2 linked regions of the Homo sapiens genome follow. The protein of the gene in region 1 purifies or fractionates together with the protein of each later gene. This does not show direct contact. Each region holds a gene or a part of one and is shown in the gene's direction. Other genes may lie near its edges.

Evidence for each region.
Region 2: the proteins of TUBE1 (region 1) and TEDC2 purify together in Homo sapiens (affinity purification with mass spectrometry; 2 studies listed by BioGRID and IntAct, with this or other methods). This does not show direct contact.

Annotation. Positions count from the first base shown.
Region 1 is NC_000006.12:112,077,419-112,081,230, reverse strand, and holds part of TUBE1 (tubulin epsilon chain), read left to right. Parts: intron 1-23; coding exon 24-139; intron 140-1,476; coding exon 1,477-1,598; intron 1,599-3,812.
Region 2 is NC_000016.10:2,458,965-2,463,213, forward strand, and holds the start of TEDC2 (tubulin epsilon and delta complex protein 2), read left to right. Parts: upstream 1-1,144; 5' UTR 1,145-1,180; coding exon 1,181-1,206; intron 1,207-1,318; coding exon 1,319-1,417; intron 1,418-1,658; coding exon 1,659-1,729; intron 1,730-1,851; coding exon 1,852-2,260; intron 2,261-2,782; coding exon 2,783-2,836; intron 2,837-3,184; coding exon 3,185-3,275; intron 3,276-3,450; coding exon 3,451-3,562; intron 3,563-3,666; coding exon 3,667-3,768; intron 3,769-4,249. UniProt on the Homo sapiens protein: Acts as a positive regulator of ciliary hedgehog signaling. Required for centriole stability.

The DNA of each region.
Region 1 (3,812 bases):
TATATTTTATTTTTCTTTCTCAGGCAGTCTTGATTGATATGGAAGAAGGGGTAGTGAATGAAATTCTGCAGGGACCACTGAGAGATGTATTTGATACGAAACAGCTCATCACTGATATTTCTGGCTCAGGAAATAATTGGTGAGAATACACAGCGTAAAAATTGAATATCTTCTGAAAAAAATGAGCAATCTTTCTTCATTGTGAGATTCTGCTGATACGAAACAGGATGTAATTTGCCACATAATGCTAGGCCTTTCAGCCCACCACCTTAATAAATAGTGGCTTGGAAGCCACCTGTATTTACTCCTAGTTCTTTCTAACTTTTTTAAAGAAAAAGAAGAATTATGAAAAATTAATTTGCTAAATTCCGTTTCATAAATTCTTGAAGAACATTAAATAATGACAAATGTTTTAAGTACTTTCATTAACTGTTATCTATGTTATTTGACTCACTCTCAAGTTGTCCAATTGGTCAGATGTAATACAATTGGTAGAGATGCAAGCCAGACCAGTATCCTAGCATTCAAGCTGAGCCTAAGGCTGTTTAGGCCCTTGAGTATATAATGGTCTCTTCTCTTTACTGTGAAAAAAGCTTCAACAGTGATTACTTAAGAATTCACATTGAGACTGTTGCTGTTTTTTAGAAATTAGCTCCTTGTTATTTGCAAATCTCTCATATTCATTATTTTCACTATTTGCAGCCAGTCCCTCAGGTTCATAATGCGGAATAATATGTAATTTTACTAAGGCATAAATTTGAATCTTGTGTTCCCAGAGAACCAGTCACTTAGTAAGTGAGCCCATCTGACCACCTAACTGCATTTTTACTAATTGTTGTATAACTTATTATGTAACTTTTGAGTTATACCTGAAATGCATATTATGGGAAAATCTTTTGTTTTAATTCATCATAGTGATATTTGCAAATTTGGACAACTTAAAAAGACTTGCAGAGCTGCATGATTATCAATTTCTACCATGTACCATTTCATCTAATAACATGATGTGACCTTTTTTTTCTCATATATGAAACCAGAATAGGTTTGTTTAAATTTTTGATTTTCAGTGTCTCTGTAGTTTACCACATTTTGCTTTTTAGTATGTAAAATCCACTACAATTCAGAGTTTGCCTTAAATGGAGAGAAGAAAAAATTATGTAACTGCAATCTTGTTTTGTTGGAATTGTACCTTAAGAGAAGGTTAAGATGAATTTAGAAAATCATAGTTTAATATTCACTACTAATGAGCTTACTTATCCAGATATTTGAGGATTATAGATACTGAATATTTGTTAAGTTTTCTATCTAGTATCTTCAGGATATTGTATGATTTATTTACATGAAACAAGAATAGACTTTACTTAGCTCAATAAGAATACTTTTCAAATTTGTTTAAAATCCTTTTATTTAGATTAGAACTAATCAAATAAAAAAATAAATGCAAGGAATTTTTAAAATCCATATTCTAATTTTCAGGGCCGTGGGTCACAAAGTTTTCGGCAGTCTTTACCAAGACCAGATTTTAGAGAAATTCAGAAAGTCGGCAGAGCACTGTGATTGCTTGCAGTGTTTCTTTATAATACATTCCATGGGAGGAGGTAAAATTTTTCACTCATTTGCCTGTAACAGTGTTAAAGGATAAGTGGGAATTCATTTTGCAAACGTAAGTCTTGTTTTTAGACCTGTGCTTGATAAAGATAGAACTATTCGGAGGGTGTGTAGTTTGAGTATATAAACATACACCTTTTTATCTTAAAATTTTGTGGAATTATGTCACTATTTTCTTTTCTTTTCTTTTTTTTTTTTTTTAATGTAAGCCCTCTTAAGAGTCAACAGAACTATACTGGAAAATTTTTTTTCTTGTACCTTTAGTTTCTTTTACAGAACATTCAGATACTTTTCAGGATGTATGAGCTTTTGAGAAATGCTGACTTTCTCCTTAGAGTTTGCCTGTACAGTCCTATTTCCTAGAGTGAAGCATTTTTGACGTGCTCATGATGTGTGCTTGCCAAAGGATATTAATACCCTTTCTTTAACCATCTTCAAACCTTTCTTGTCTCCAAAAAGAGAAAAAAAAGGAAACTAGTTTAGTCAATTCCTTTAGATCATTTATTACATGGCAATTAATCAACTTGAAGTAAAAATAAATGATTGGCATTGCTTTCTTCCCCCAGGGAAGTCTATACCTTAGAACTGAAGTATTTTGCTCCCCTGTTCTGTAAAAATAGAAACAGAATGTAACTTGCTGATTTTTAAATACGCTTAGCAAATTTTAAAAGAACAAAATGGTCACACTTTTTTCCTCCAACCTGAGATTAAGATTTTATATTCAGCAAGTTAGGTGTATGTACAGTTGATTTTTATACATATTATTCATTGACATAGCATTTTAAGATTAAAAGTTAAAATTGCTGTGTAACCATGTCTTTAAAAGATCCTCATAATCATCGGTTAAGAAACAAATTTGTTTCTGTGCTAGTATAATTAACCTGCAAATTTGAGCTAGCTTTTTATTTGATTTATAGTTCGTTATACCTTTTTAAAAAATACCTTTACTACCCAACATCTCAGAAGAACATACTTACAATTCACTTAAAATAGCAAAAATAAATATTAATACTAAAGGTTAAAAGTAAAGTTCTTTTTTCCCCACATCTAATGCCTACTCCCTGTCCTTACAGATGATCAGGTTTGCAGGGTCTTTTTATGTCTGTTCTTTCAGATATATTCTATGCCTATCAAAGCATGTATGTATATTTTTACATAAACAAGATTATCCAATATATACTATACTGTAACTTTTCCACTTTATCTCTTTCTCAGACATCTTTCCATATCAGCTCTCTGTCATAGAATCAATTATACAGTTTAAAGTGAGTTTGTTATTTATGGGTATTAAGTGTTTATGGTGTTTAGTTTTTACATCCAATCATCAGTGAAAGTCTGGGACAAATACTTCTGTATTTGTGCCACTATAGCTTTAGACAGTATTCCTAAGAAAAAGATAGGACCAAAGCATATGTACATTTTAAATTTTGGCTGATATTACCTATATACCTTCCTACAATATTGCACCAGTGCTTCTTACTGGCAACAATGTGTATGAGTTTCTATTTCCCTACACTAGCACCAATACTGAGTATCATGAGACATAAATCTATTATATTCAAAATTGTATTTAGTTTTAATTTGTATTTCCTTAATTAGAAGAAAGGTTGAGCATCTTTACTTCTATTTGCAATTTGTATTTCTTTTATTATGAGTTAAATGTTTCTATCCTTTGCCCATTTCGTGGTGGCATTATTCGTATTTTTTGTTGTTGATTTGTGGGAACTCTTTCTTAGAGAAACTTAGTCCTTCCCATCATATGTATTGAAGGGTTTTTTTGTAAGTTTGTCTTGTTATTTTTTATGGGTTTTTTTAAGTATATATAGAAGTTTTGTTTATTTTTAATGAAATCAAAACTGTCTCTTCTGTAATGGCTCTGGTTTTTTTGTGACGCTTAGAAAGTCCTTCTCATTAAAGATCACCCCAAGAATCTCCCTCACTTTGACTTAGTATTTTTAGCATCATAGCCTTTTAATAGTTATCTGCATGGATTAGAACATTGGTGTTTAAAGTTTTTTTTAACCAGAATAGTATGAAATACATTTTATATATCACAATGCAGCATACACACATGAAAAAATATATTAAGAAAATGTTATTTACTCATACTACATCTGACATGTTATTTTCTACTGTTTCATTTAAGAAAACAGTACTAATCTGTTCATTAGTTTCATAGCCTACTAATAGTTCAGAACCCAGTT
Region 2 (4,249 bases), on another chromosome or scaffold:
AAACCACTCCAGGGGGACCTGGCCCCGCCTGCCTGTGGTGGGTGGGTTCCTGCATCACCCACCTGCTGACTGAGCATTTCCCTGCCTCCTCCTTCACAGAGAATCTCCAGGGAGGCAGGGCCACCGTCACCCTCCCCCACCGCTGATGGAGGGGCCCACCCGGAGCGCTGGGCCAGAGCTGCCTGGGTCCCAACCTCCCTGACAACTCCCTTTGTGCCCTCCTTCCCCTCTGCGATGGCACCTTCCCATTAACGACTATGGAATGGACTCACCTGTCCCATCTTTAAACAGCAACCCCAGGCTCTGTTTTTCTTTCAGCTACCGCCTGGGATTTCTTGCCCCCTAATTGTTTATTCTTGTTAACACCAACTACATGGGGCCCTGCTGCCTTCCTCACTTCCTCCCTCAGGTGTCCCCCGCATCACCGAAGGCCCTGTACCCCCGCCCCCCTGCTGTGCTGTGTACACCGCCGAGGCCTCAGCAGCACTTGGCCTGTGACCCACTCCCTCCCGTGACAGCCTCCTGTTGCCTCTGTGACACTGTCCTACTGCTCCTCCACCTCCCTGGCCATTGCGTGGGCCCCGTGATCTGTCCCTACCCGTCCCCTGCCCCACCAGGGGCCACCTCGCCTGGCCCACTGCTCCAAGGTCTGAGCTTCCTCCCCTCTGCCCAGTGCTATCACGTCACATGTCCAAAAGTGAACACTTTCTCCTCCTTCATCCCCGCCCCTGACACGCGGAATCCTCACCTCCAGCAACCCCGTCCTGTCCCTGTGCTCGGTGGCCCAGGCGTCAGCAAGACGGCTGGTCCCTGCGTTAAGAGCACTTTCAATAAGGACAGATGGAGCCTCTCGTATAACCTTCACCGGCCCCCTGCAAGAGAAGCGCGATAATGGCGCCCCCATCTACCCAGTTACCCAAACCAAAATCCCGGCGTCGCCCGCAGTCACCTCCCTGGCGGCCTCGGGGGCCCAGCTCCGAGCCGGAGTCCCCGTCAGACCTGGGAGGCAGGAGTGGGCGGGGCTTGAGGCTTGCCCGCAAGGAGGGAGAGAAAGCTTCGGGGGCGGCCCCTGAGCCCCGGTTCAGGATTGGGCAGCCCGGCCGGGAAGGGGCGGCCTTCCCTCCCGGAAGGGGCGTGGCTCTTCAGAGGCGGCAAATTGCAAGGAGACGCCGCCGCCTTCATGCTGCCGGCGGGCTGCTCGCGCCGGTGAGGCCTGCGCGGCAGGAGGGGGTGGGAGGATGCGGGCGGGCCGGTAGCCAGGCGCGGGGCCCGAGGCCCGACGCTGGCCGAGGTGCTGAGCCGCCGGTGCGTCCCCCAGGCTGGTGGCCGAGCTGCAGGGCGCCCTGGACGCCTGCGCACAGCGACAATTGCAATTGGAGCAGAGCCTGCGCGTTTGCCGTCGGCTGCTGCATGCCTGGTACGCGGACCCCGGACCCACTGGCCAGACCTCCCTCGGGCCCTCAGAGTCCCGCCCCGAGCGCCCAGGGCTGGGAGACCGGGCGCAGCCGCCCACTTCGGAGCTGTGGGTTGTCAGTGCCACCCTCCTTACCCTGCAGGCTCTGAGCTGGGGGCCTGCCGCGGGGCCCGGCGGCCCCCTCGGGTCTGTTTGGGCTGGGCCCTGCCTCCTGGCCGTGCGACGGCTGCCCGTGTCTTTGCAGGGAACCAACTGGGACCCGGGCTTTGAAGCCACCTCCAGGGCCAGAAACTAATGGAGAGGACCCCCTTCCAGGTAAACCTCCACCACCCGCCTTCTCCAGGTGCTGCTCTGGCCTGTCTGCTGGCGTGCAGTTGTGAGGAACCCTCCTGGGGGACAGTGGGGAGAGATCCCTGCATAATTCTTGGCTTTCACAGCATGCACACCCAGTCCACAAGACCTCAAAGAGTTGGAGTTTCTGACCCAGGCACTGGAGAAGGCTGTACGAGTTCGAAGAGGCATCACTAAGGCCGGAGAGAGAGACAAGGCCCCCAGCCTGAAATCTAGGTCCATTGTCACCTCTTCTGGCACGACAGCCTCCGCCCCACCGCATTCCCCAGGCCAAGCTGGTGGCCATGCTTCAGACACGAGACCCACCAAGGGCCTCCGCCAGACCACGGTGCCTGCCAAGGGCCACCCTGAGCGCCGGCTGCTGTCAGTGGGGGATGGGACCCGTGTTGGGATGGGAGCCCGAACCCCCAGGCCTGGGGCGGGCCTCAGGGACCAGCAAATGGCCCCATCCGCTGCTCCTCAGGCCCCAGAAGCCTTCACACTCAAGGAGAAGGGGTAGGTTTCCCGGACCCTCACTGGAGGGACTTCTGTCTCTGCCTCCTCAGACCCTGGCTAGCAAGGAGCCTGGGATTTGGGGTGACAGGGAAGGCAGGGCATCGAGCCCTGTGGCATACCCCTGAGGCTCATGCTCAGAAGCTGGCAGAATGAAGCAGCTGTGTGGTGGTGTCCAGGTTGGCACCATCAGGTCAGGGAAGTACTGGAGCCTGTCCTCCTCTCTTCTCTGTGGCTGTCCCCTTATTTGCCCAGGCCAGAGGCTCCAGATGGGCTCTGGAGGGCGTGGGATCTGCTCACAGGGCCCCGCTCACAGGGCCCCCTCTTCTCTCTAATGGGGCAGCACTGGACGATGCTTCTCCTATGGCCACTCTGGAAGCCCTATCCAAGGGGGCTCATCCTTGGTGGGGTCGGGTGTGGGAGAGGGGCAAGAAGCCTCATCCCTGATTGGGCTCTGAGCAGGAAGTGGGACTTGTAGACCCCAGAGCAAGGCGATGCTCCTCTGAACACGGGCTTCTCCGACAGGCACCTGCTGCGGCTGCCTGCGGCATTCAGGAAAGCAGCTTCCCAGAACTCGAGGTGAGGCTGAGGTCTTTGGCTGGACGGGGGTAGGGGAGAACCGGGAGGCATCACCAGCTCGGGGACAGGTTCGAGATACTTTCCAGTGGGTCTCTTTGTCCTCTTTGCTGAGTGGGATCACTGTCGATGTTAAAAATCTGCCAGCCGGTCAGCTTTGTCCCCTTGTCCTAGTCAGTGTCCTCTTGGTTCCCTGCGGCCTCTGGAGGCCCCTCCTGGCATTCAGCAGAGCCAGACGCCCAGCCTGGGGTCCCCACCCTGGCCCTTGCCTACCTCCCAAGGCCCAGCTTACTGGCTGGAATAACCGTGTCCCTCTGTGGTTCCTCTGTGCACCCCACGTGTGCACCCCAGCCTGTGGGCCCAGCTCAGTTCCACACAGACCAGTGATTCCACGGATGCCGCCGCTGCCAAAACCCAGTTCCTCCAGAACATGCAGACAGCTGTATCCTTGCTGGGCTTGTGGGAGCCCTGGGGGCCTCTAGCTCTGAACCTGGCAGGTTTGCAGAGCAGCCCCAGGAGGGGCTGGCGTGGGATGGCCAGGGCCACTCCCCAGGCCCCGTTCTTGGTGGGAGCAGAGGGGCTTTGGCTGCAGGGAAGTTTTCCTGACCCATATCCAGTCAGGCGGGCCCCAGCCCAGGCTCAGTGCTGTGGAGGTGGAGGCGGAGGCGGGGCGCCTGCGGAAGGCCTGCTCGCTGCTGAGACTGCGCATGAGGGAGGAGCTCTCGGCAGGTCAGTGGGTCCTGGGTCTGTATCAGGAGGAGTGTGGAGGGCCAGTGCAGGGAGGGTTTCCAGACTGCCACGGGCCCCACCTGCTCTCCCTGACTCTTCTGCAGCCCCCATGGACTGGATGCAGGAGTACCGCTGCCTGCTCACGCTGGAGGGGCTGCAGGCCATGGTGGGCCAGTGTCTGCACAGGCTGCAGGAGCTGCGTGCAGGTGAGACCCCGCCCCCACCCTGCCACCTGCACTGAGGTCTGGGCCGGGGACAGGGTGCTTTAGCCAGGCTTGTCTGCGCCTCAGGGAAGGGTGAGCAGCCCAGGGACCAGATGCAAGTTGGTGGGCCCCTCCACCCCTCCCACGCCACTCCCCAGTGTGCTGGGTCCTCACCAGTCGTCCTATGGGAGCAGTCAGCCTTCCTCTCCTCCTCAGGGCAGCTCTCCCACCTCGCTGCTCCCCGCACACAGAACCTCATTGCTCTGAGCAGTTGCTTATTCACCCAGTTGTTGAAAAACTAGCATGTGAGGGCCGGGCGCGGTGGCTCACGCCTGTAATCCCAGCGCTTTGGGAGGCCAAGGCGGGTGGATCATGAGGTCAGGAGATCAAGACCATCCTGGCTAACACGGTGAAACCCTGTCTCTACTAAAAATATAAAAAAGTAGCCAGGCGTGGTGGTGGGCGCCTGTAGTCCCAGCTACTT